Regions from separate parts of the Homo sapiens genome. Here region 2 is linked to region 1. Evidence: fine-mapped expression QTL. Tissue or cell type: gastroesophageal junction. Region 1 holds a variant in brackets; the other region holds the start of a gene. All regions are shown on one strand. Distances are between the middles of the regions.

What was found. PIP is the estimated chance that this variant, and not a neighbour inherited with it, causes the effect.
Region 2: NAT9 starts here. The variant in region 1 is fine-mapped to the expression of NAT9 in gastroesophageal junction (GTEx, PIP 0.91).

What each region holds. Positions count from the first base shown.
Region 1 is chr17:73,964,699-73,975,702 of GRCh38, reverse strand. No RefSeq gene overlaps it. Among named protein-coding and RNA genes, the nearest start is that of LINC00469, 140 kb to the right of the region's middle. RefSeq lists enhancers at 656-1,353, 1,354-2,053. The variant T/G (reference allele first, on the strand shown) is at 4,782.
Region 2 is chr17:74,772,153-74,781,204 of GRCh38, reverse strand. It overlaps NAT9 (N-acetyltransferase 9), which reads left to right and starts at 4,860. Exons shown (of 7, transcript NM_015654.5): 1 at 4,860-4,938; 2 at 5,498-5,583; 3 at 7,517-7,629; 4 at 8,166-8,309; 5 at 8,928-8,987. The coding sequence starts at 5,507. SLC38A12 (solute carrier family 38 member 12) reads right to left here and starts at 4,706. Exons shown (of 10, transcript NM_017728.4): 1 at 4,628-4,706; 2 at 3,830-3,941. The coding sequence starts at 3,874. RefSeq lists a silencer at 51-220 and enhancers at 799-1,008, 1,099-1,148, 5,059-5,178.

The DNA of each region.
Region 1 (11,004 bases):
ATACTTTCTAAGCTATGTATCTAAGTATAAGTGTACATTCATCTAAAGACATAAGTTGGGCTGGGTGCGGTGGCTCACGCCTGTAATCCCAGCACTTTGGGAAGCCGAGGCGGGCGGATCACGAGGTCAGGAGATCGAAACCATCCTGGCTAACGCGGTGAAACCCCCCCATCTCTCCAAAAAAAAAAAATTAGGCGTTGTGGCGGGTGCCTGTAGTTCCAGCTACTTGGGAGGCTAAGGCAGGAGAATGGCATGAACCCGGGAGGCGGAGGTTGAAGTGAGCTGAGATCGTGCCACTGTACTCCAGCCTGGGTGACAGAGCAAGACTCCGTCTCAAAAAAAAAAAAAGAAAAAAAAAAAAAAGACGTAAGTTGGCTGGGTGCAGTGGTTCATGCCTGCAGTACTTTGGGAGGCCGAGGCAGGCAGATCACCTGAGATCAGGAGTTCGAGACCAGCCTGGCCAACCTGGTAAAACCCCTGTCTCTACTAAAAATACAAAAATTAGCCACACATGGTGGCAGGCACCTGTAATCTTAGCTACTCAGGAGGCTGAGGCAGGAGAATTGCTTGAACCCAGGAGGCAGAGGTTGCAGTGAGCTGAGATCACACCATTGCACTCCAGCCTGGGTGATGATAAGAGCGAAACTTCATCTCAGGAAAAAAAAAAAAAAAAAAAAAGAAAAGACATAAGCGATTAACTTATTTTAATCTATACCTAAGGCCTGAGTCCTGAAGACCTTCCTCTGAAGCCTCAGTAAATTTACTTGATCTAAAATGGGTCCAGGTGCTGGGGTGATTACCCTTATCTTGTCTCGGGCTAAGTCACAGTGGTTTGGCAAGTTTCTTCAGACCCCCAGTAAAACTTGTTTAATCCTAAATGGGTCCTGTTAAGAATTCCTTTGTTATCTTGTCATGCTTTAAGGCCCAGGAAAGGCCTAGGCAAAACTCCTGGTGGGCCTTTGTTACATTCCAGCCTTTGTGTAAGGGTGCTGGCTTTTAATATTTAGCTTAGCCACTCAGTCAGTACTGAAACAGTTGTTATGGAAGCCTGCATCTGTGAGACCTGCCTGCCACAGAAGGACTAGAGTGGAAAGGAAGGGTGTTTGTCATACAAGACCCCCTGCCTGGTGCTGGGGATGCAATGGGATGCTTCCTGCACTCACCAGAACCGTCTGTGGGCCAAAGGGACATGGGATGGATGGGAGAGGGGATTGTCCCCTTGTCCCACCTGACCGCATTAGCAAAGGGGCTTCAGCCAGGTGGCATTGGCATTGTGAGGCTCTGGGGGCCATCAGTAGACAGGGCATGGGTGGCCCTAGGTGGCAATGGCAGCTGGTTTGTCTCAGCCAGATGGCCCCAGAAGCAGTTGTCTGGGGAGGTGATCCCAGGAAGCACTGATAAGGGACTAGGAAATGAGCGTGGAAGGGGAGCAGCTGGCTCTGGGTGTGTTCCAGGCCCACATCCTGCACCTGGATCCCTTCACAGGCCTCAGGGCCAGGTGCACCACATCATTCCAAATCATCCCTCCTGAGGGGTGAGGAGCTGAGATGTTTTAACATCCATAGGGGTTAATTCTCTGGCAGATCCGGCTTCCCCAGATGTGGGCTGTGAACATGCTCCTGGCTCCTGTGAAAGCTCCCAGACTGAGTCATGGGTGTTTGCAGTCAGAAGCCACGGGCGTTGGAACCGTCAAGGCCAAGGCTGAGTAGCTGGGGCACCGACAGTGTCTACTACAGGGGTGGTCCCCTGCCCGGAACTCCATGAGAGATGAAGGCGGCCCAAGCCGACAGGAGAGGGAGAGCAAATAGCGCAGGGCAGCTCCAGAGGCCTGGGGGGGGGCGGGACCCAGGCCAGGATGGGGAGAGCGAGGCACTTGCCTGCAGCCACGTTTAAAAGGGGCAGCCAAATACTCAGGAGTCAAGACCATCACACATAGTCGAAGCAGAGAAAATCTGTGATGAGCAAACTGTCTGCTGTCCACATGTGAAATAAAGACAGGATCTGGCCGGGCTGGGACTAGGGTGTGGGTTGTCCAAGTACAGGGACAAGGCCTGTCTTTAGTCCACATTTGGATATTTTGTTCGTTGTGGATAGTTTTTATTTCATGTTGGTTTCCTAAGAATGCCGCAATAAATATTATCTTGTTTAGTGAGTTTCTGGGGTCCCCCTAAATTTTCTGCCTGGACTGAGGGCCGGACTTGCTTCACTCTAGTCCGGGCCCTGTCGCACCCCTGAGGACTTCCCCCAAAGCTGGGAAGGCTGTGTCAGGGACAGAGCTGGGGCGATTGGAGCCAGGGCGCTGGGTGTGTGCACTCTTCTCTATGCTCCAAACCCTGCTGGCTCCCAAGGGTGAAGCAAATACAATCAGTCCCTGCTGGGAGGAACATGGCTGAATCTCAGAGCTGGAAGGACTAGGAGGTCACCTGGCCCAACTTTTCTCCTAATGCAGGAGGCCCCTCTGCAGCACTCTGGAGGGGAGAAGTGTCTGTTTCAGCCCACTGTGCACAGACAGGCTCTACTGTGTGGGGAATTTGTCTTCTCCGGTGATTGAAGCAGTGAACAATGTCTTCCTTGTCATTGCAGTAGACACCTCGTGGCTTCTCTGACATTGCTTATGGGCATGCTGGGGGCTGTTTAAGACCCTAACCTCTGTCTGCCCTGGGATTCAGGAGAGGTCCAGCCAGGAGGAGACGTGCGGGAGGAATGCAGGAGGCTTATGGGCAAAATAAACAGACCAACCCATCCTGAGAAAAGGAGTCGGAGTGTAGAGTTGGTTCTTGGGCACAGGTGCAGGGCCCGAGGGGAGGGGTCACTTAGTATGGTGGGGAGTGTTTTTTACGTTGTTGCCGTCTCTCTGTCCTGGGGTGTGGAGAAGGTAATGACAGACACAGGAACACACCAGCTGTTCTGGGAACTTCTGTCAGGCAAGGATACAAATACAGAAGCTCATATTGCTCTGTGGCCCACGTACCAGCATGTAATGCAAGGGTGATGGGGTACAGCTGGTGTCTGAGGACGACAGGGCAAAGTTCCAGAGAAGGCAGAGCACCTGGATGGCAAGGTAGAGCAGCTGCAGCCAGACCAGGAGCCACCGGCGAGTGACATGGGACTAGTGTACAGGGGACACCTCCCTTGTACCTGCATGAGCTTGAGGTCTCCCCTCTCCTCCCCTCCCCTGTCCTGCCCTTCCTTCCCCTCCTCTTTCCTTCTCAACTGATGAAACTCCGTTTTCACTCCTGTGTTGGTGTGACCTGGAGAAATATATGAGAAGTTTTCCAAACTGCTGTTGGGGAACGAAATGGAACCCATGAACCCATGAACCCAAAGTGCAGAAAGGGTGTGGTCAGGGGCTATGCTGACTGTCGCAGATGCGGGAGCAGCCCCAGAGCTTCAAAGGAGTGCAAGTTGCAGTGATCATCAGCGCGGTGGCCCCCGCTGTGGGCACGTGGCAGGACACACTCCCCAGCCCTGGAAGTAGGCACGGCTGTGTCTACTCTGTGAGCCAATGTGAGTCACTGCATCCCCTTACCCTGGCTGAGACAGCGTCTCTCGTAGCCATTGAAGTCACTGCAATGAGCAGAGCATCCATGAGCAAGATCATCATGGCATTTACTTAGCTTTTGGGGTTTCTTGTGGTCTGTTTTCACAGCACAGGGTGGCCTATCCTGAGGAGCATAGGAGGATAGGATCCACTTCTACTCGGCACTCATTGGTGCATCATTGTCCAGATGGGGACCCCATGCTATAGATTAGGGTCTTGGTTGCCACTCAGGCATCCATGCTGGGGGTGATGCTCACAGTTTTCCAAAAACAAATGCAAAGACACAGTGGGTTCAACTACCGCCTCCAGGCTGAGACATAAAACCGCCACTCAGATGTAAATCTCCCAGGTTTACCCTTGTATCCAGCTTTAGGCTCAGCTAAAAAAGAAAGTAATTAGTCTTTCTTGATTTCTTCCAACTCAATGGCAAAAAAAAAAAAAAATTCTAGTAAATAAATCTCTGGAACTGGAGAGGCAAAAGAACAAGCTGCATTGTTTACCCCCTCCATGCACTACAACTAATGATAGCAACAAAGAACTCGACTGACTTAGAAATTCTTTGTGATCCTTTAATACCACAGAAAAATAAGCCTGAGACAAGGATGGGGAAGTTGTAGGCACCCATGTGCGCAGGAGTGTGGCTGAATGCCTATTGTGTACCCTCAAGAGCTCTGTGGCATCTTCACAGTAGCAAAGATGATATGCAGACTCACTTGAAGCCAGCTTGATGGACATTGCAGGAGGAGTGTGGAATGACAGGTCACTATCTGGTCACCCACGCTGCACTTGCTGTTTCTTGCAAAGCGGAAATGTGATACTAGTTGAAAGCAGAGGCACAATTTGAAATTTCTTTTTCATTTTCAAGACTCTAGATTCATGGTGGAGTTGATACCTGTCTGTAAATACCCATGAATCTGGGGTTCAAAGGCCACCTGTCTGAGAGTCTGGAGCTGCCGTGGAAGGAAATGTGGAGTTGGATGTGAAAATACTTGTTCTTAGAATTGTTTGGTAGACTTCTGGATGGGCAGTGGCGAGGAGGGTAGCAAGATTTATGAATGGACAGATGGCTGAGAACTCAGTGTTCAAGAGAGAAGGAAAGCCGGGTGCAGTGGCTCATGCCTGTAATCCCAGCACTTTGGGAGGCCAAGGTGGGCAGATCACTTGAGGTCAGGAGTTTGAGACCAGCCTGGCCAACATGGTGAAACCCCATCTCTACTAAAAATACAAAAATTGCCAGGAC[T/G]GGTGGCATGCCTGTAGTCCCAGTTACTCAGAAGGCTGAGGGAGGAGAATCACCTGAACCCGGGAGGTGGAGGTTGCAGTGAGCCGAGATCGTGCCATTGCACTCCAGCCTGGGCACCAGAGTGACACGCCGTCTCAAAAAAAAAGGAAACTCAGAGATGCAGAAATACCCAACAGATAGGGATGGGAGTGGTGACAGGGAATGCTTAAAAAACAACAGGAGATTATGAAGCAGGACATGTTCTTGGTGGCTACAGAGCATCAGGGACATGAAGACCCGAGACGGTGATGGCTGGAGGCAGATCAGTTAAGTAGGCATGAGACGAGGGAGCAGACCCCTTTGGGGGTGATCTCCAGGCTGAGCACAGACTGTTGGAGAGACAGCAGAGGCTGCATCAGGAGGGAGAGGACGTCTCCTACCCAGGCAAAAGAGACACCCTGCAGGAGCTAGAGCCAGAGAGGAGCCCAAGCAGGTGACGTGGGATGAGAGGACGGAACAGAGGGGCACCAGGAGAGGACTATCTCAAACTCGGGCAAAACATCTCATACCCTCTCTAAAGAGATGGCTCCCACTCAGGGATGACAATGAAGCGTGTCTGCAGTGATGGTGGGGGTGCATGGTGGAGGGAGACTGCTCAGTAGGCATCTATATGACACACACACAGTAGGCACTAAATAAATGCCTGTGGAAACTGATGAATACATTGCAGTAGACACAGTCGTACCAGTTTTGCGCTAGGAGCTGTTGCGTAACGGCAGCTATTCTAGAGAGTTATGGCTGTGATGAAATCAGCTGGGCTGCTGAGCGGCTCAGGAGAGTGAGGGCTGGTAGGTTTGGGACTTGGAGTTTACAATGAAGAGGAAGTGAACTAAACTAGCAGTGACCGCTGTGGCCATCTCTGAACATGAAAATGAGCAGCAGGAAAGGAGTGGGGCAGGGTGAAGCCTCCTCACAAAGACACACTCTAGGGTTGCACAAAGCGGTGGGTTGACTCCCCAGAAAACACCTCTTCGGGCCAGTGCAGAATAAAGGCAAATTCTGGTAAATATTGACCCTGTGCTCTCTGAAATTCAGGCCACTTCTTGCCACCACTGTGCTAGTGATCTCGGACCAGCAGGGTGGACCGGAAGAGGACTTTCGTGTGACTTTGCCATGTCTTGCTAGTGTAGCTAACATTAATTGAGCACTTAACATGCACCAGACATTGTGTAAGTGCTCTACAGGAATTAACTCTTCTAATCCTATGTGCCAGTAATAATTGCCTCGTTTTTACAGCTGAGTCAACTGAGGCACAGAGAGGCCATGAGCTAACCCATGTAGACCCAGGAACTGAGCACAGGCAGGTGGTACCAAGGCTTGTTTTCAGTCCCTTCCCTGTAGCTGCCTCTTCGAGTGCATGCATGTGTGTGGGTGGCTCTGGTTCCATGGAGGGCACGGCCACTGGACCCTTCAATCTTTGATGCTGCTGTTGCCTCCCTACCCGGCTCTGGAAGGCATGAGAGTATGGACTGTGGAATCGCATTTGCTGGGGTTTGGATCCCAGCTCTGCTTCTTAGGATTTGGGCAACCTCATTTATCTCATCTGTATAATTTGTGCTGTGAGGATTAGAGAAAACACATACATACAGTGTTTTGTATGTCTTGTGATGTGTAGTGGGTCTTCTATGAGAAGCCTGCACTCAGTCAACACTTGTTGTTCCTGTCCTAAGAAACATCCCCTGATGGAATTAACCAGTTCCTGCAGTGTGAGCATCTGCCTCTTCTTACCTTGGTTTTGGATCCTAATAGCATCCTTAGAGCTGATTCTTGGTTATGCCTATTATCAGTGCCTGGGATAGATTTCTCCTTGTTCACCCAGTAACTGACCTTGAATGGCCTCTATGGTCCTGACTCTTGAGTCACTGGCTGAATCAATTTGGTGTGTGCCTTCCAGACAGAGGAGGCCCGTGAGTGATGGCTGGGAGAGGAAGGAGCTCCATGCAGTGGGGCAAGTTCAGGCAGCTTGGTTGTGCTGGGGCATAAATTACAGAGAAGAGAGGCTGGAGGGGGCGCCAGTTTCAAGGAAGCCCTTGTGGTACAGCTTAAGGAGCTTGAGCTTGATCCTGCACTCAATGGAATGGAAGCATTTGAGGGTGTTACATAGGAAGGCAACCTGGTTACATCAGGGAGCTCACTCCAGTACCTGTGCGGAAAATGGGTTGGAGGCAAGCAAGACTGGAAGCCAGGATGCCTGCTAGGAAGTTGCTGCTATTGCCTCGGCATCAGCTGAAGGAGGGGCCCTACAGGATTTGGCCTCATTCAACTTCTTGGGCTCACTTCCTGCCTCCCTGCCTCCTGCTCTCTCTGCTCCTGCCTCATTTTCCCCTTGTCATTCCTCAAATTCAACAAGGATGCTCCTGCTGCAGACATTTGCCCTTACTGCAGCCTCCACCAGACACACTTCTCTAAGGTGTGTGCATGGTCTTCAGGTCTCTGCTCAAATACTATCTTACTGGGAAGGGTTTCTTAAGCACTCTGCAATAAATAACTCCTTGACTCCCTCACTTTCTAGCCTTTGATCCTACTCTATTATTTTCTTTACTTTCTCTCTTTATTTTTAGAGACAGGGTCTCACTCTGTTGCCCAGGCTGGAGTGCAGTGGTGCAATCCTAGCTCACCTGCAGCCTTGAGCTCTTGGGCTCAAGGGATCTTCCTGCCTCAGCTAGGACTATAGGCCTGAGGCACTGCACCTGTCTTCGGCTTCTCTGTTATTTTCTTCCTCAGCACTTATCACTACATGATATTATATTTATCCATTTGTTTATTATCTGTCTCACTGCACTATAATATAAGCTACTCCAGGCAGGGCCAGTGGCTATTTTGTTCACTGCTGTCTTTATACAGGTAGACCCTCAATAAGCATCGAATGAGTGAATGAATCCAAGTGATAACTTAATATGAGGGTGGCTCAACCTAATCTGCAATGAGCAGGGAGGCATTTCAGGGAAGGATTCAGTACTGCCTGTCTGCACTCACTGGCAAACATCTGATTTTTAGTTCTAAGCACTAAAGGCAAGTCTCCTTCATGGGTCCCGGGGACTGGTTCATCATTAGAAATAAATCCCCCATAGCCTTGTGCAGGTAGTTTGTAGGGACAGGCTTGCACAGATAGTTGGGGAGCAGCTGGACTCCTGTGCAGACAGTTTGTGGGTTGTTCCTCCTGCGATGACATTGTTCTTCAGTGGTAAGTAATTAGAGCCTCAGGGCCACCTCTCATTTTGTGGATAAGCACGGCTCCAACACTTTAGGCGAAGTGCCCATGATAAGAAACAGAACATTGCAATGTGCTCGCACAAAGCAAAAAGTCAATAACTGCTTGACATTCTGAGAAGCAGATGTTCACTGGTAGATCCAACACCTTGGAAGGTCTTTTCTCAGTGGGCACTAAAGTGGTTCAACGATGGTTGCCTTTTATGGAAGATAAAATGAATGAAAAGCCCTGGGCAGGTTGGAAGCTTTTGTCCAGTTTTGGGGGCAATGCAATCAGGTTTGCATGAATTTCATCTTAGGACAGGTGAATGCAAACAGCATTAATTCATTAGCCTAAGGAAGTGACGATGGAAGTTATGATGTCACAGGTTTTCTCATCTGGATACTAGATGATTTAAAGGGACTTATTTCTTGGATGATCCTGTAAATTGGAGGACTGCATTGAAAAGTGGTCTTGCACCAGGAATCCTATGAAGTATAGTTTCCATGAAACTGTAGGAAATTGAAGCAGTCCTCAGAAATTCTGAACTGAAGATGCCATGTTCAGGGTCACTCTGGGTGAGTGACAAGTATCTAGACAACTATTACTGATGTGGATAAATTTGGGGAATTTCTTTTTGCTGGTAAGACTTTTCCTCCAACTGGAATTTCAAGTGGTTAATGGTAGAGACCTCAAGTGCATTGTATACAGATCTTAAGGAAGCAGGGGAGGAAACAGAATTCTTGAGAGTCTTCTGTTAGCAACAGTATGATAGGTACTTTCTATACTTTAAAAATTTAACTTTCTTAACAACCCTACAAAATAGATACTATTATCCCAAATTTACAGATGAGAAAACTGTGGCTTAGAGCAGTTAAAAAAAATTCTCAAGACCACACAGCTAAAAAAATGGCAAGACTGGGTTCCCTACCCCCTGCCATATGCAATATGCCTTCTGAGCACCCGCATGCACATCTATCATCCGATTACTACTGAACTGTTAGGCTTCTGTATGAGCATGATCTATGCATTTAAGGAGGTGGTTTAAGGAGAATTTTGGGGGGTGGGTATAACAATGGGGGTGGGTATGATAACAATGCTGATTCGATTCTCAAGCTCTAACATTTCTTTCCATGGAAGAGAAAGCAAAAGTTGTTTCTAGGGATTGAAGGTAATTGAAGGAAAGGTTAGGTCAAGTTAGGACTGTGATATTTTCCTCTTACATAGTCTGTGTTCCTTAGTAATCACTGACAACTGTAACCTAGAGGTACTGATGACTTTGGACTCTGACAGCTAATGGTATGAGGCCAGGCTTTGCGTTTCCTCTATGCTATCAAGAAGCTTCTCCTCCTAAGATGATATGCCTTAATGTTAATAGTCTTCAGCAACACAAACTGAGTGACTATTTCAGTTTACTATAAAAAATAAAAACACAAGGTGGGAGCTACTGCCTTCTGGTAGTAGTGTAGTAATTTGGTCACAGTAAGTCTTCCACAGATGACAATTATAAACTCTGAGCAAAACACAAAACAGCACAGAGGAATACCCAAAAGTAGGCAGAAACCAGAGGTGAGTCTGCCCTTGTGAGACCGCATGAATGATATTTGTGAGTTGGAAGCGTTTTGCCTGGAACTCCCAAATCTGTGCATAAATTGAGGTGGTAGAAAGCTACAACTGTATTGGCTTGAGGTATCAGAGGACAGCATTCCGGACAGGAAGAAAGAAAGTTGGCCGGGTGCAGTAGCTTACTCCTGTAATCCCAGCACTTTAGGAGGCCAAGGTGGATGGATCACCTGAGGTCAGGAGTTCAAGACCAGCCTGGCCAACATGGTGAAACCCCATCACTACTAAAAATACAAAAATTAGCCAGGCATGGTGGTGGGCGCCTGTAATCCCAGCTACTTGGGAGGCTGAGGCACAGAATCGCTTGAACCCAGGAGGCGCAGAAGGTTGCAGTGAGCTGAGATCATGCCACTGCACTCCAGCCTGGGTGACAGAGCAAGACTCTGTGTCAAAAAAAAAAAAAAAAAAAGTTAAGAAGGAAATACTTGAAGGAAGTGTGCCTCAAAGGAGGAGAGCCCAAAATACATATGAGATTCACCCAAATTCTTGGCACATCTAAGATATGTATATTGAGAAGAGACTTGACAATTTTTTGGGTGGATTTGATAATGATATTGGTCTAATAATAATGATAAGGATCAGGAAAAAAAAAAGCAACTGGAAGTGGAAGAAACTGGTGGAGATTTTAGTTGCTACTGGTCAAGGGGGAGATGATTTTTGGAGATTGAGATACTCAATTGGCTTGCATGACTGAATAAATTGACAGAAAAACAAAACAGACTTCAGAGTCTTTACAGTGTATTTAAAAAAAATGTTTAGTATCCAATCAGAAATCACTAGACACATAAATAGGAAAATGTTGCCTCTACCAAAAAAAAAAAATCCCATCAGTAGAAATCAACCCCAGGATGATCCAAATGTTGCAATTAGTAGATAAGGAATTGAAAACAGCTATTATAAATATGCTCAAAGACTTAAAATATATACATATGGAAAATACATACAAAATGAGAAATCACAGTAAAGAAATAGAAATTATCATAGAGAGCCAAATGGAAATTCTAGAGTAATGCTGTTCAAAGAACTTTTGCAGCAATGGAACTGTTCTATATCAGCACTGTCTAACACAATAGTCACTAGCCTCATGTGGCTCTTGAGCACCTGAAATGTAGCTGCTGTGAATGAACCAAAAATTAATTAGAATTTTAAAAGGCACACAGTGATTACATTATTGGGCAGTACAGTTTTACACTTAAAATGTATATAACTGAAATAAAAGAATCCCTTGAATCATTCAGTAGTAGATTGGAAATGGAAGAAGAAAGAGTCAGTGACCTTGAAGGTAGGTCAATAGAAAGTATCCAGTGGAAAAATACAGAGAAAGAAAGTAATAGAAATGCACAGAACCTCATAAATATGTGGAAAATATCA
Region 2 (9,052 bases), 810 kb before region 1:
GTCAAAGGTCTCTTGTGGATCAGGGTTTCTCAGCTTGGGCACTATGGAAATTTGGGGGCCAGGTCTTTTTTCATGATGGGGACCTGTCCTGTGCATTGTGGGATGTTTAGTGGCATCCCCGGCCTTTGCCCACTAGGTGCCGGTAACAACCTCTCTCCAACCAGTACTGTCCTGACAATCAAAAATGTCTCTAGACACTGCCTACTGTCCTCTGGGGGGCAGGATCACCGCTAGTTGACAACCACTGCTGTAGAGAGAGGTATAATGAAATAAGCATGCTCCCAAAAGAAACTTAGGAACCTTTAAGAACTTTACAAAGAAATGAATGAAGAGAGAAACTATTGGCAGTTGGGAGCAGAAATGGGTAATTGCAGTTGTCTTGCTTTGTTGCAATTTTTTCAGTTCCAAAGCAAGCCCTGTGTGTTTAGTGGGGGCTCAGGGAATCCTGCAGGGTAACGTAGGACTTCTCTGCCTTCTCAGGACTGTGGCACTCCTGGCGAGCATTCAGTCCTCTTCACCTTCTGTAAAGGTAATCAGTGATGGCCAATCACAATGAACAGACATAGAGGCAGGAAGCAAATCTGGGCTGAGCCACAGGTTGGGTCAGGAGGGGTTGTGGGGAAGGAAGAGAAAGGAGACGTTCTCTTCTGCTGGTCGTGGGACAGTTCTGTGGGCCAGACTCCTGGGAAGCAGTGGCAGAAAGCTGAGGAATAGGCTCTACTGCAGTCTTGATAATGAAGACCAATGCATGCATTCTAAACTGAGTTATCTCCAATTCTCACCTCTTCCTCTGTGGCTGCACTGGAGGAGGCACAGGCACTGCTCCCTGGGACGGCTGGCCTGCTCTCCTATGCCCTAGAGAGCTCAGTGCAGCATCCCACATGCCTCGTCTCCACCCAGCAGCCTCACTCATGACCTGCATGGGGCAGATGTCACCAGTATCTTTCAACAGCTTCCCCTCTGACAATTGTCAAAGGAAACAGAAGGCAGCAAAGATGCGGAAGCAATGACTAGGATTTCAGGGTGTGAAACAAGCCTCTCTCCTTCGAAAGCAACCGCAACAATCTTCAGCAGGAACCAGCAGGCAGAGGCACCCTCAGCGGCCGACCCTTCTGTCGGGCGTGACCTACAGCATCCTGTATTTTGATCACACAACAACCACTTCAGTTCTGTGTCACTCTCGGTCCTCATAAATGGGGAAACAGACATGCCTATCCTGAGATCCCTTAAGGGGACATGTACCTCTCTGAACCACGTTCCCGTGTTCAGCACTACCCTTGAGAGGGTGTGACATCTGAGCCACCTAGGAGGTTCGTCTGCTTGTTACAAATATTTTAGGCAGAATAATTCAAGCTAAAGCGAACATCCTTGGAACTCCTGAAGGGGAAAAGAACTCAAAATGAATGGGGCAATAGAGAGCTAAGGAGAGGCTTTGTCTTGTAAATGCGCGTGGGCTGAAGCACACGTATGAATGACCTGCCCCGTGTCTTGGTTTCCCAAGGCAGCCAGGGCAGAGCTCTGCCCACGTTGTCTTGAGCTGGGGCCTGCAGGGGAACTCAGAGCAGCCAGCATCAGCAGTGAGTTAGTTCCACAGCTTATCTGGGTTCAGTGACAACCAACTCTTCTGGTCTTACAGAGGACCAAGAATTGTTCCAGGACGGGGGAGTTAAGGAACCCTTAGGAAGAAGGTGTCTTCTCCCCTCAGAACACTGACCACTACACCTCCTGTTTGATGTCACATCATCCCCTCCCCATCCCACCCCATCTCCTCCCTACATCTCTCTTCACCAGTAGGATAAAACAACACAAGCACTTGTTTATGGCCAATGCCCAGAGCTGGCCCTCTGGGCAACAAAGACCCTGAACGAAATAAAACACAGAGGAGATGGAGAACAAAAACGGGCAGAGCGCACTGAAGCTTGCAGGCCTAACTGCCTCATTTCCTGTGGGCACATGCTGACATGTGAGAGGACCCCTTAAACAACCGGAGATACAAGAAATGGGGACATATCCAAGTGTTTTCCTTACAAAACTTAGTTACAGGGATGACTCATCTCCTTATCTCTAAATTTACAGATGTTGTAAGAAAAAGCAGGAGCCGTGGTGACTTTTACATTAATAGACAGCATAGAGATTTCATCACTGACAGCAGGAGGCTAGGAGCTGTTACATAATTCCACAAATGAGAGGGACACTATTTATTCCATTCCAGGGTTCATGAAAGACTTCACCTGAGAGGCTGGGTGCAGTGGCTCACGGCTGTAATCCCAGCACTTTGGGAGGCTGAGGCGGGTGGATCACCTGAGGTCAGGAGTTCAAGACCAGCATGACCAACATGGTGAAACCCTGTCTCTACTAAATACAAAAAATTAGCTGGGCAGGGTGGTGCATGCCTGTAGTCCCAGCTACTTGGGAGGGTGGGGCAGGAGAATTGCTTGAACCTGGGAGGCAGAGGTTGAACCTGGGAGGCAGAGGTTGCAGTGAGCCGAGATTGCACCATTGCACTCCAGCCTGGGCAACAAGAGTGGAACTCTGTCTCAAAAAAAAAAAAAAAAAAAAAAAAAAGACTTCCCCTGAGAAATTACACAGGTGATGGGTGAAGAAGGCTCCTTTATTGCCACACATGAATGGCACAGGCCCAATAGGAAGACTCTGGAATCAGGAAGGCTTTCTTCCAGCTGTGAAGGAAATGTCTTGGAGACACTTCCTTGTCCATCACACCACAATGCTAGTCTGTGAAGCTAGCAGAAACAGACCAGAGATCCCCAGGCTAGGAAGCTATGTACAAGGCAGGGCAGCTGTTGAAGGCAGGTCAAGTTCTAGAAAACTCTTGCTACTTAGGGCAGTGCTGCTTTTGCCTGGGAGGGTTGGTAGCAACCTGAGTCAACCATCTGATTATTCCAACCCTCTGGCTACTTATCCAGGCAAGAGGGCCCTGTGATGTAACAACTATGACCAATCATACGTTACATAGAGAAGATAAACTGCGTGTGTGTTGGGGGCAGCCAGAGGTAACACAGACCTAAGACAGTGAGAATCAATCATTCTAATTGTTCTAATTGCAGAGTCCACCAAACTGTAATTAGAAGTCTCTGTATGCTTTCGCTGCTTCTTACGCCATCCAAGACTATAAAAGTTGTGCAATTTAAAATTCAGTAAAGACCAAAGCGGTTTCCAACTGCTGAGATGAGCAAAACCCAGAGTCAACAGCTGTCAATCACTGTTCATCTGAAGGGCAGCACTGCAGGCAAGTGTGGTAGCCTGGAGATGAACATTATTTCTTTATTTTTGAGACAGAGTTTCGCTCTTTTTGCCCAGGCTGGAGTGCAACGGCTCGATCTCAGCTCACTGCAACGTCCGCCTCCCGGGTTCAAGCGATTCTCCTGCCTCAGCCTCCCGAGTAGCTGGGATTACAGTGCCACCATGCCCGGCTAATTTTGTATTTTTAGTAGAGACAGGGTTTTACCATGTTGGCCAGGCTGGTCTTGAACTCCTGACCTCAGGTGATCTGCCCGCTTCAGCCTCCCAAAGTGCTGGGATTACAGGCGTGAGCCACCGTGCCCAGCCCGGGATTAACATTATAAACAGCATGGCGATTTTGTTTGGCTTGACCACTCTGACAAACACCTTAAAAAGAGAATAAATCTGACTTACATTCTGAGCCACCACAGCAGCACTGTAGTCGCTGCCCCATGGAACTCCCCCATCCTGCTTCCACTATGGTCTGCTCAAGCAGCAGCACTCACTAGTCCCATCTCCAGCAAGCAATGTGCTTTTCTAGAAGCCAGGAACACTTAAGTGAGCAAAAGGTTCTATAAGTCACACTCACGTAGGAAGAGTAGAGTTCCCCGGTCTCTGTAATTTCACCCGCCATTTCCAAAAGTGAGGAAGGGCTGGCAGCAGAGGTTCCTTAGGTGCAAGGACGGCGGCTGCCGCAGCTCCTTAAAACAAAAGAGCAGGCTTCACCTATCTGATGGACTGAGACAGGGGTGGGAGGAGGCTTGCAGACTTCCCCTGCCACCTCTGGTTCTTTTATCACAGACACTTAGGGCCTCAGTATCTGTCACAAGACTCACCCCCGAGGGAGGGGTCACCCTGGATGACAGAAATCTGGACGGTTTCTTCTAACATTTCCCTTGCTGTGCAGGGCACTGCTCTGTGCCCAGCACGGATGTTTTCAATGCTGCTCGGGGTGCAAGTGATTTAAGGGGCCTCTAAAACCACTAAGTCTCACCCACCACAAGAGCCCCCTTTCCACGCTCTGGGGTGGTTATCCTCGTTTAGTTCCAGGAACCAGGAGCTCACTACCACACATGGGAGCCCAAGGAACTGTCTGCCGCCTCTGCCTAGGGCAGGGAGCTGGGGGCTTTCCTACATTGCCCTTCCAACTCCACTCTTGGCACTAAGGCCTCCTTTTTTTAATGGGGCCTCCACTCCCTGGCCCCACCTACTCTCTTAGGGTTCCCCACCCTCAAAGCTCCCTCTTTTCTCAAGAACCCCACTCCCAGCCTCTCCCTCTCTCTCCCTCCTGGAGGAGTCCCGAGTCTAGTGCCGCCCCGCCCCGCCCCAACCTATCCCGACCCGTCTCGTCCTCTCCCGCCCGTCCCGACCCGACCCGACCCAACACCTGCAGCACAGCCAGCTCCCAAGCCGCCGTCTCCCGCCGGTCCGCTGCTGCCGGCGCCAGCTGTCCAGCACCAGCTTCCGCAGCGCGCATGCGCCGGCCCCACAGCCCACCTTTTTCGCGCGCGCTGATTGGGCGCCTCGCGGGGGCGGGACCGGGATTGGGGCCTGGCGGCTGCCGTCAGCATGGCGGAAGTGGGCGGGGCGCGTTCTCACGCGCATGCGGAAGGGGCGGTAGCCGGCCGGGCCTGGGAACGTGGCTGGTTGGAGGAGGTAGATCACCCTTTCTGCGGGGGACGATTTCGTCGGTGGTAGGTGGGTGTGAGCTTGGCAGTACCCGGGTCCGCGTGGTTGGAGGGTCGAAGAGAGTGGTCTAGAACGCCACTCAAAGGGGAGGGCCTAAGACTAAGCCCGCCTTGCCCTGAAGTGGTCGGGGGCGGGGAGGGAGTGGCTAGAGCCCCGTGGGGTGGTCGCCGGGGTAAGAGGTTGGAAGTAGGTTTAAGGCAGGGCTGAAAGTTGATTCTGGGTTGGAATCCCTGGACTGGGGCAAGTAATGGGAGCTCTGGGGATACTTTGGTACTTGGTACTTGGTGCTTGGGTTTGAGGAATCGAAGTTCTGGGGAGTGGACGGAAGGAACCGGCAGAAACGGAGCCCAGGCTTGGCCTCTTGGAGTGGGAGTCAAGGATTGTTTAATTATCCTTAACCAGCCTGGTTCTCTTTCTTGCAAGAATTTTGGAGTCTGTATTCTTTGAAGTGTCTAGACGGAACTAATGACGGAAGTCAACTTAGCCCCAGCAGGAAAGCTGGAGCGCCTACCCAAAGTTGGAGGAAATTCAGGGTCCTGAAGTCTTTGCTCTCCCCATCTGCATGCAGGCTGCTACCATGAGGTTGAATCAGAACACCTTGCTGCTGGGGAAGAAGGTGGTCCTTGTACCCTACACCTCGGAGCATGTGCCCAGGTATCTTTCCCGCTTGACATGGGGTGCGTATCAGCACCCAGAGCTGTGTAAGGTACAGCCCCAGTCTCAGGGCTATTTCCCCTAAGAAGAAACATTGGTTGTGAGAAATAATTATATATGAGGGGGGAAAAAAGGCTGGGTGCCGTGGCTCACGCCTGTAATTCCAGGACTTTGGGAGGCTGTGGCAGGAGGATTGCTTGAGCCCAGCAGTTCGAGACCAGCTTGGGTAACGTAGCGAGACCTTGTCTCTACAAAAAAATACAAAAATTAGCCAGGCATGGTGGTGCACAGCTGCAGTCCCAGCTACTAGGGAGGCTGAGGTGGGAGGATTGCCTGAGCCCAGGAGATGAAGACTGCTGTGAGCTGTGATTGTACCACTGTACTCCAGCCTGGGTGACAGAGCAAGAACCTGTCTCAAAAAAAAACAAAAAAAACAAAAAAACAAAAACAAACAAAAACAAAAAAACGGCCGGGTGCGGTGGCTCACGCCTGTAATCCCAGCACTTTGGGAGGCTGAGGCGGGTGGATCATGAGGTCAGTAGTTCAAGACCAGCCTGGCCAACATGATAAAACGCCATCTCTACTAAAAACACAAAAAATTAGCTGGGCTTGTTGCCCGGCACCTGTAATTCCAGCTACTTGGGAGGCTGAGGCAGGAGAATCACTTGAACCAGGGAGGTGGAGGTTGTGGTGAGCCGAGATCACACCACTGTACTCCAGCCTGGGCAACAGAGTGAGACTTTGTCTCAAAAATAAAATAAAATAAAATAAAGGCTGGGCGCAGTGGCTCACGCCTGTAATCCCAGCACTTTGGGAGACCGAGGCAGGCGGATCACAAGCTCAGGAGAGCGAGACCATCCTGGCTAACATGGTGAAACCCCGTCTCTACTAAAAATACAAAAAAATTAGCCGGATGTGGTGGCGGGCGCCTGTAGTCCCAGCTACTCGGGAGGCTGAGGCAGGAGAATGTGTGAACCCGGGAGGCGGAGCTTACAGTGAGCCGAGATCGCGCCACTGCACTCCAGCCTGGGTGACAGATCGAGACTCCGTCTCAAAAAAAAAAAAAAAAAGAGACCAGCCTGATCAACGTGGAGAAACCCCGTCTCTAATAAAAATACAAAAAAAATAGCTGGGCATGGTGGCACATGCCTGTAATTCCAGCCTGGGCAACAAGAGTAAAACTCTGTCTCAAAAAAAAAAAAAAAAAAAATAGCAGAACCTGGGGACTGTGACTTCCTTGGGAGGAGCTGCCCATCCTCTTCCCTTTCATTCTCTCAGCTTTTTGGCCTTTCAGCAAGGAATTGCTTTATGTAAACTAAACGTGGAAGAAAAAGAAATTGTCTTCTCACCTAATTGTAAATTAGTGATGTTTCCCTGGTGCCAGTGAGTATGTTCAGTTCTTGGAGACTTAATGTTAGCTTGTCCTTGAACTCTGAGCTGATGAGTTGTGATATCTACCATTCAAAAGGCCAGGACTGAGTCATGATGGGATTCCTGTGGGGGCAGTTGGCACATGTCTGGTAGATTGGGATAGTGGTGCTGTAGATGGGTATTCTCTACTTGTAGTTTTCCGTTTGAGGGTTCCTGGTGCCCTAACTTCGTGGGATCTGTCCAGCCGCCTTTGTTGAGGTTGGCTTGCCATATACATCCCCTTCTGGAATTTGAAGAATGTTTGGTTTCAGACTGCTCCTCCGCACTGACCCGAGACAGGATAGGAAATTGGACAGATAGAACTGACTCGTCCTGCTGTTCTTGTGTAAGACTAGCTTGCTTCTGGGTCTTGTGTCTGTGGCCCCTGCCTTAGGAGCAATCATAACCCTTTGGGTCTTCTTTGAGCCCTATGTTAGCCCTGTCTGGTTCTGGACCCTCATAAGGTGTCAGACGTATGCCTCTGAATGAGTCCTCCATGTCTAAAGCCACCCCTCTGTCCCAGCAGGTACCACGAGTGGATGAAATCAGAGGAGCTGCAGCGTTTGACAGCCTCGGAGCCGCTGACCCTGGAGCAGGAGTATGCCATGCAGTGCAGCTGGCAGGAAGATGCAGACAGTGAGGAGTGCCCCCCCACTTCCCCTAGCCCTGGTACTGGGAGGGCTGACTCCACAGTCAGTCTCCAGGTTCCTTCCCTTTCCCAGCCCCGGCCATAGAAGCTTTGTGAAAAGCCTGGAAGGTGCTGGAACTCCTGTATTCTCATGGCCCTGAAGCCAGTCCCTGTGGCTGACCCTTCTGTCCTCTTCCCCACCCACTGCATCGGGCTTGGAAGGATTTGGAGAAAGTAGAGCATTTGGGGCTCTGGCTGTAAATTGAGGCCCTGCCCCTCATGTCCCTCACCACAGCCTAGTGTGGTGACTGCCCTCCTCTGTGTTCCCTGCTCTCTGAGAATTTGGTTGCTGGTTGGAGAGGCTTTTTCTGTATGAGGCAGATTTGGAATTTTGTAATGAGCTGAAGGAAGCTCTGGGACCCCCTCTTCTCCTGGCAGACTCAGAGATGCTGGTGTTCTGCAGTGCTCTGGCTTGGGTAGGAGTACCATCCTCTCTTCTCTCCTCTGGGGAGTGTGTGTGATAGCCCTGTCACCTCCTCCTCAGAGTGTACCTTCATTGTGCTGGATGCCGAGAAGTGGCAGGCCCAGCCAGGCGCCACCGAAGAGAGCTGCATGGTGGGAGATGTGAACCTCTTCCTCACAGATCTAGAAGACCTCACCTTGGGGGAGATCGAGGTCATGATTGCAGGTTTGTTTCACCTAGCCCTGCCTTCCGCTGACTCCCGGCTCTCAGATCTGCTGACTGAGCCTGCCGAGGCTGCAAAGGGTGGGCACTCACAGGGTTCACTGGGAGGCTCCATGTGGTGAGTCCAGGGCCTGGCTGGGCAGCCTGCCCACCTAGCCCCCTCAGCCTGGTGGTACACCCTCAGCCTCATCACTTTAGTCCTTATGCTTAGGCGTGAACTTAACCCTTGGTTTGGGGTAGATTCAAGTATGGTTAGTCCCATAGTTGGGGTGGGCTGGGGACCCTCAGAAAAAGGTCTCTGGAGCATGTTGTCATATTACAGGAGGAGGCCCTCCTGTTTCTGCTCCTTCATGGTCCTCAGTTTCCCCCAAGTGGCTACTGACTATCCCCATGAGGCAGCATACTGACTCCATGAGGTAAAGAGGTCAGCTTTGAAGTCAGGTTGCTGGGTTGCAAGCTGTGAGGCCTTTCACACTTCTTTGTGCCTGTTTCCTCGTCTGCAGAATGGTAATGATAGTAGCAACTTCAGAGTTGTTGAGAATTAAATGAGATGGTGTCTGCCAAGTGCCCGCACTGGAGCCTGGCACACGGCGTCAGCGCCGCTCCTGTTGTCTCTCCTAGAGCCCAGCTGCAGGGGTAAGGGCCTTGGCACTGAGGCCGTTCTCGCGATGCTGTCTTACGGTAAGAAAGTGTGAGCAGACAATGCGGGAAGTGGGCAGGCCCCAGGTGAACTTTGTTCAGGTGTG